Linked DNA regions of Homo sapiens. The protein of the gene in region 2 purifies or fractionates together with the protein of the main gene of each other region. This does not show direct contact. Each region holds a gene or a part of one and is shown on either strand. Other genes may lie near its edges. The genes, in order: AHCY and L3MBTL4.

Evidence for each region.
Region 1: the proteins of L3MBTL4 (region 2) and AHCY purify together in Homo sapiens (affinity purification with mass spectrometry; one large-scale study listed by BioGRID and IntAct). This does not show direct contact.

The regions. Positions count from the first base shown.
Region 1 is NC_000020.11:34,293,125-34,296,942, forward strand, and holds part of AHCY (adenosylhomocysteinase), read right to left. Parts: intron 2,462-3,818; coding exon 2,271-2,461; intron 1,033-2,270; coding exon 957-1,032; intron 1-956. UniProt on the Homo sapiens protein: Catalyzes the hydrolysis of S-adenosyl-L-homocysteine to form adenosine and homocysteine. Binds copper ions.
Region 2 is NC_000018.10:6,240,182-6,243,999, forward strand, and holds part of L3MBTL4 (lethal(3)malignant brain tumor-like protein 4), read right to left. Parts: intron 3,249-3,818; coding exon 3,113-3,248; intron 1,269-3,112; coding exon 1,177-1,268; intron 1-1,176. UniProt on the Homo sapiens protein: Putative Polycomb group (PcG) protein. PcG proteins maintain the transcriptionally repressive state of genes, probably via a modification of chromatin, rendering it heritably changed in its expressibility.

The DNA.
Region 1 (3,818 bases), on a different chromosome or scaffold from region 2:
TCTTCCTCATAGAAACCCTGTGAGGCAGCCATGACCATTATCATCACTTACAGATGCCCAGAGAGGAGCTAAGACGCACTTGGGCCACTCTAAATGAAATTCCAGAATAGACACCAGAACTGAGGGCTACTGACCACCAGCCCACACTCCTCCCATGTGGCATGACTAGGGCACAGGTGTGGGGTTCCCAGGAGCCTCTTGTGAGCAAAGGACGCTGGCCAAGCAGAGCCAGCTGCTTCTACCCACAACTGGAGCAGACAATAGTCTTAAGAATTGCAGTGAGCCAAGATCGCACCACTGCACTCCAGTATGGGCAACGGGGCAAGACTCTGTCTCAAAAAGAAAAAAAAAAAAGAAGAAAGCCACGGTGCCAAGGCTGAGGAATGGGGATCATGCCCATTCAGCCCTGGTCAGTCTGTGAAGGAGTGCTGTGCCACCCCCTCCTGTCCACCTGTGGTTGGTTAGAAGCAATCTTGAATGTCCTAATCACTGGGTCAGATCTAACCACTCCCCTCCCCAAGTCCAAGCAGACATGTGCCCAGCCTGTGAAAACTCCATTCTCGTTAGACTTGGTCCTTCCTCAGTCCTTTAGACCGCCATACCCTAGGCAGTGAACCTCTTTTTCTGCCCCGTAGCCCTCCCCAGTTCTTTGGAAAGAGATCCACATCCTTCCTTTAATGAACTTCCCCTCCGCTTCATCATGTAGTTCCCAATCATAAGATCTTGCTCTTCCTGGTTACACGGCTTGACCTGGGTCAATAAACAACTTCCACAGGATTTTAGATGATGATGGGACAAAGCAGCTCTTTCCTGTGGGGTCGCTGGGCTAGGATTTTGTGGCGGTGACTCCTCTCCCTTTCTGATATGTAAGGAAGTCTGTTGCTCTAGCAGTCAGTGAAGCAAAGAGGGCAGAATCCCTTCACAAATTCCACGTCTCAGAAGCAAGCAGGACTTACCCGGAATGCCAGCCTTGGCAATGGCAGCCGCCGCATGGTCCTGGGTGGAGAAGATGTTGCAGCTGGACCACTGCACCTAGAAGAGCCATCAAAACAAGGCTGTTGGTCACTGATGGCTCAAAAGCACCAGGGACGCTGGGCGAGGAAAAGGGAGAGCTTCGGGTAGTGGGGAGAGGCTTGGGATCTAGGCACAGCAAGCTCTAGGATCACAGGCTGGGGATGCTGGGTGGGCAGATGGGAGCCAGAGCAGGGGCGAGATCCAACTCAGGTTTTAAAACCTCACTCCAGTGCTGTGTGGAAGGGAAAGGGTGGAAGCAAGGGGACAACTGCAGAGACTGTTGGAGAAGACTCCAGACAAGAAATATGACAGTAGCAGTGGAGATGATGAGAAGTTGTCACATCCTGGGTCTACTCTGAAGGCTGCACTGACAGGATTTGCAGAGGGATGAGTTGTTGGAGTAAAGGGAGTTGGGAGTGGGGAGGAAAGGGAGGGGAGGAGATGACTCCCAGATTCGTGAATTGAGAGAACCCAGAAGGCTGGAACAGAGGTTCCATTTACTCAGGTGGGGAAGGCTTTGGGAAGAAGAGGGGGCAGAAAATCCTGAGTCTGTTTGAACGCGTTCTGCCTGAGATGAGTACTAGACCTCCAGGGAGCGTCAACGCCCCCGCTCCTGGATATGCCAGTCTTGAGTTCCAGGAGAAGTCCAGGCTAGTACAAAAATGTGACAGTCATCACCAGATAGTGTCTAAAGCTATAAAATCAGACCGCCAAGAGTGAATGCTGAAAAGAAAGAAGAGGTCCAAGGACTCAGCCCTGAGCCCCTCTGTGGATTTTGGCTCCATTGCCCTACCCTGCTTTGGGAAACCAGCTTGCTTCTTGACTCTCTGAGACCTTAGGAGAGCTGTTAATCATTGGCACACATGACCCAGGCTGAACCAATCAGAGCTGCCATCATCCAGCAGCCATGATGGGTCCAGGGTAGGCCTGTGACCCCCGAAGGGCCAAGGCAAGCTGGCCCTTAAGAGACTAAGTAGGACATGGGTGTTGAATTTTTCCTGCCAGAGCATCCATCAGGAGGATGCCTTGAGGGTAGCCAACAGTGACCTTCCCAGCCAGGGAGAAAATCTGCAGAACACTCACCACAAGGGGTGGCAGCACTGGGAAACGGAGGAAACCGAGTGAGAGGGAGGAACCCCTCCAGGCCCGCGGTCAGCTCCACACCTGGAAGGTCCCCACCCTGGCACAGTCGTCTTCTTCCCTGGCTGAACCCAGGGAGGGCAAGGACTCTGGGGTGATACAGCTGTGGGCCTCACCTCAGCACCCAGGGTGACGAGGGTCTCAATGAGGACGGCCGTCTCCACGGTCATGTGCAGGCAGCCAGCGATGCGGGCGCCCTTCAGTGGCTTGGAGGCCGAGTACCGCTCCCGCATACGCATCAGGCCCGGCATCTCGTTCTCAGCAATGTCCAGGGCCTTGCGTCCCCAGGCAGCCAGGCCGATGTCGGCTACGGGAGGAAACAGGTGGGAGTTCCGTGAGTCCCCTCATCCCACCAACCAAGAGGGGCGGTCACTGCATGGACCCCGATCCACGTGTGGACTCAACACACTAGGGCTTAGCACTCTGTCACCGCATTCTCTCACTCATGCAACAAGTATTTATGAAGCCAGAGTACTCAAGAAAGACACGGTCCCTGCCTACCTGCACCTTTCTGACTTGTGGGAGAACACATTTAATCACACAGGGACACAAAAATTACAACATAAAGAAGCGTCCCTTTGAAAAATAGCTCACATGATACTTCCCACTACCCTGCCTTTCTGCTGACACCTACCAACCTCCAGGCCACTCCTCACTCCCTAAAGACTCCCTAAAGATGTTAGCTGCTGGTTCTCCATCTTCCTCTCTCAGTCATCACTCTCGGTGATTCAACACTTATAAATACTATCTAACATTTTGGATTTGACAGTTCCTTGATCTCCTTTTAGATGTAAAAATGCTTCCCCACTCCTGATGTTTCTTTCCACCTGGAGGAACTCATCCGTATAACGAATGCTCTTGGCCTCTCTGCCCCAGGGGAGGTGGGGTGAGCTTGTCTGACCAGTAAAACTGAGAGGAAAAAATGGTGTGCTCAGCTTAGCTCTCCCTTCTTTTTGCAAGCAAGCACTCACCTGCCCACTTGCAGGAAGCTGGTGTTCTCTGCTTTTCCAGAGACCAACCTACCCTGGCCCACCTTGCCTGCAACTGATTGGGTAACTGCTGAATCTGGGGGTTCAATAAGCAGGATCATTTGGATTTCATATTAATCTATATCCTCTGGCTTTGAGGTTATTAGTAATAAAAGGTAATATTTCAGGTGTTGCCACCTAAAATACTAATCTACATCCTCTGGCTTCATGGTTACTAGTAACAAAAAGTATTTCAGGTGCTATCTGCCACCTAAAATGTCTCGAATTTGTTCAAATTCTCAGGCAGGAAAGAAGGATATTATTATGAGCTAACTCACTATCTCAATACTCTCCCCTACCACACTGGTCCACTTCCAAGGTCATACCCTAGGTCAGTCCCTAGGTCAAAGTTTGCAGACTTCCCCGGTAAGGGATGTTCCTCTGGCATGCTTGTAAATCTCCCCTGGAAAATATGATTCAGCAGGTCTAAGACTCCTGGTGATTTTTATCTTTAGGGAAGCTGAGATCCTGCCAAACACCCAAAGAGGTAGGCGGTGGGAGGCAAAGGACTCTGTAGAGAATTTAATAATCTAAGAATTTAATAATCAATAAAATTGTCTGTCAGTCAGCTTCCTACAGTGCATTTTAACAATTTCAGAGATGAAACACGCCTCCCGCATGAGAGACCACTCCGGC
Region 2 (3,818 bases):
TATGATGTTTACTGAACACAATAGTATCAAATAACCTTCTCTGCTTCCCATAGGCTTTTGAAGTTTCCAAATGCCACTATTTGAAAAAGTGGTGAAGATATGCTCTAATTAGCACCAAAGTATCCTGTTAATTTGATTACTCAATCTGAAAATAAGTGGCTTTTTCAATATTTAAGAAATACATGCTTAAATAAAATTATAATTTAAAATGTGTATTTATATATAATTTATATATATTTAACATATAATTTAAATTTATAATTTTAAAATGTGAGTGCTTTTTTACTATCTGTGCTTTTCTTAGTATAAAAATACTATGAACTATGATTTACAATAACATAACAATTACAAACCCACCCTTCATATATCTATAATTAGCCAATCCTGGGATTTAGGGAGTACATACAGTATCCGGGAACTGAAAGAGGGTGTTTTTCTCTACTTCTCTTTCATCAAACCCTGATTTTTATTCTCCTTCAGCACATTCTATTTTTACAGCAACTTCACGTTTTAATAGCTCCTTTTCTTGATACAAATCTAGGAAACATATTTAACGATTGTATAACACTGCTTTCAAGATCACAGAAGTGATGTCTGGAGAAATTCAGTGAGTGGCCTGCACAGTGACACCGCCTGCCAGTGGCAGAGCCGACTTCTGGAGTTGCAATTTATTCTCCTCCACTGAAGGTTCACTAGATTTCTGGGGACACGGATGGCATAAGAAGTGTGATCTACCCAGATCCGCAGAACACCCCTTCAATTAGTACAAAATGTTACTCTCATTTTCATTACACTTAAATATATCTAGGCTGGGTACATTCAAAGCCTACTTAGAGTATCTGCTGGTTTCAAAACACCAAAAGCAAGATTAAAGGATTAACTCCCTGTAAGGGAAAACATTTTTAAAAGACACTTTCAATTTTAGTAGGCTTTAAACATAAAGTTTTTAAGTTTTCCCAACTTTTTCTCATCTAATTGAAGTATTTAATTATACTTTTAAAGGAAGAAAACCAAGATATGCCCACAAGAAACTGACGAATTAGGTGAGAAAAGTGACAGGAAGTTAACAGTTTCCATAACTTCTTAAAGGATTAAAATAAAACAGAATATATAGTGAATTTTAAGAAATTTAAGCTTGGGGGAAATTTGATTTATGCTGGGAAAGAAAATACTTACAGGACTTCTGTTTCTGAATAATTTCTTTGGAGCATTTTGCAATTTGCAGGCCTTCAAGTAATCCATCCAAACAAATTTATCTTTTCTATAACCTAAAAAAAGCACAGATTACTCAAAATACCCAAAAGATGTAATCACATGCATATTAAATATATTAGGTTGGTGCAAAAGTAAGTGCGGTTTTGGCCATTACTTTTAATGGAAAAAAAACGCAATTACTTTTGCACCAACCTCATATGGTTATTATTAGTGTCCTGCCATAAATTCAACGTCCTTAGCACCCACAAAAGATTTAAATTAAAATCTCCAAATTGTTTCACCTTTTTAAAATGTATTATGTGCAAAACTGTTGATAGTGCTTCCCCATCACGCGCATCATTCCCGATACAATTTCACATGCTCTGATACGGAGTCAGTACTCTGGTGGCCTGATGGGAGTCTCATCGCCCATTAAGGCTTTCCTGAATGGGCAAAGGGATGAGACCAGAGTTCCCGTACCTGTCCCCACTCCTGAGGAAGAGACTTTACAGAGACCATCAGAGGTCCTGAGGGTGCAGCCATCCAGGATGCCAGGCACAGAAACGCCTTCTCAATCCAATGCCCACTCCACAGCTCCAGCTTTCTGCGCCGCATCTTTACTAGTCTCCCATTAAAAACTGCTGCATCCTCCCATTCGCATGCCCTGGCGTGGCTCTCACACAGTGCTGGCCAAACAGTACAGGCTCAAAATATGGTTCTGAGCACCAGCCTTGGAACAGAAGTCAAACTCCCTGCACAGCCTTCCAGGCCTGGGAACACCACCCTCTTCGTCCCCGACCTTCCCACCTGGGCGCTTCTCTGCTGTCTCCCTGAGATGACTCATCCTCGCAAAGCGCACTCCTGCCCCGGCGCCTGCTCCTGTTCTTCCCTTGGAGGGCTTACCCAGACACCACACTGCTTCCTCTGTCATTTCACCCACGTCTCTTTGGAACATTATGTCCACAGAGAGGCCTTTCTCCCCCATGCTTTCTGAAAGAGTGTCCCTGCAGCCACCGCCATTATCCTTCTCCTCTGAAATGAAGCCCCGTGGAGATAGAGACATTGCTTTACTTGCTACTGGCCCTCAGTGCCTCACGTGGTAAGGGCTCCATAAATACCTACTGAATGAATGAGCCTGTAGCCTGTCACCAGCTTCCTCCAAACCAGCAACCTCAAGGACTCTGCCATCAGCCTCAGGGGAGGATCCCAAGGGACACCCTGAGTGGATAACTAGGAATAAAGGACTGTATACTGACTCCAGAAGTTGCCACAGACATCGAACAGTCTGACATCCAAGCCAGAGACAATGTACAGAAGTTTGCTGTGCAAAGATATGAGCCCGTCAGCATCATCCTTGACCACATCCCCACCTCACTTGCACACAGCAAATCGAAAAGGTTTTGGTCACATCTGCCTGGCCCAGACTCCTCTAGCACATAACAAAACCATGATATTTTTCATTCCCATCGAAAGAAAATAGTGATTTTTTTCATAGTTCTTTGTTTTCCGTGATTCCTAAGTCTGAAACAAATTACTTACAGTGAATCAAGTTTCCTCACCTTGCTGTATCATTGATTAGATATTTTGTTTCAACCATGATTTAAATATTAGTCTGCACTGCTTATAAGGTTTAATAAACTTTATATAAAATAAAATAAAATGCTTTCATAATATTTTATTTCTGCCTTCTGTACATTATCAGAATATTTGACCTAAATAGTCATTTATGCTTTTCTTTAAAGACATTTACTTCTAAAAATGGTACCATTATAGTCTTACTACTCTTTATGGAACACAATTTCATTTTGGAAATCAATCCACACCAGGATCTCTTCTTCGAATTTCATAAAGTATTGTTAAAATATAAGTGAAATACCAATTGATTCTCTTTCCAGTTGGTAAATGTATCCTGGCTTACCCTTAGGGATGTGCAGTTCATGTTTGGTCTTTTCACACCATCCTACTGGATGAATGTCAGGGGAACCAGCATTGGTCCAAAAATCATAGCAACTTAAATAACCATCAAAATGAAGTCTTAGACGGTAACCACAAACCTGCAAGATAGAAAGTTTACAATCATTCGTTAAGTGTCATATATTTGGAGTAGACACAAAATTCACAAAATATTCATATATTTTGTCAGTACTATCAACATATAAGAGCCAACCCTTCTATCCAAATGTTTCCATTAAAGAAGAAATTTATGGATGACCTCTGATTAAGCTCTAATGAAATTAGACCCTGTCTTACAGGTATCTAGTGCATTCTGCAAAATAGTGACCCTTTTACCCAATCTAGGAATCTGAGGGTCAGTTTATGTATTCATTAATTAACTGGTTTATTTATTAATTCAATACCTGTCAAATATTCCCTTCAGCAACCCTATCTTCTGCCCTCTGGCCTGGATTCACATTCCAAGACAGTGTAAGCTAAAGTACAAAGCACAACTAAAATAAGCATGGCCTTGTTTCAACTCTAACATATGTATCCAGCACACTCAATAAAGAGAATAATAAAATGGTCTGAGAAATACATCCTCTAGACATGTGGTACAACTTTAATAGCTATAATCAATCAGTAAAGTAAATAAATGTGACTGTTATGTTCAATGCTATCAGAAATAT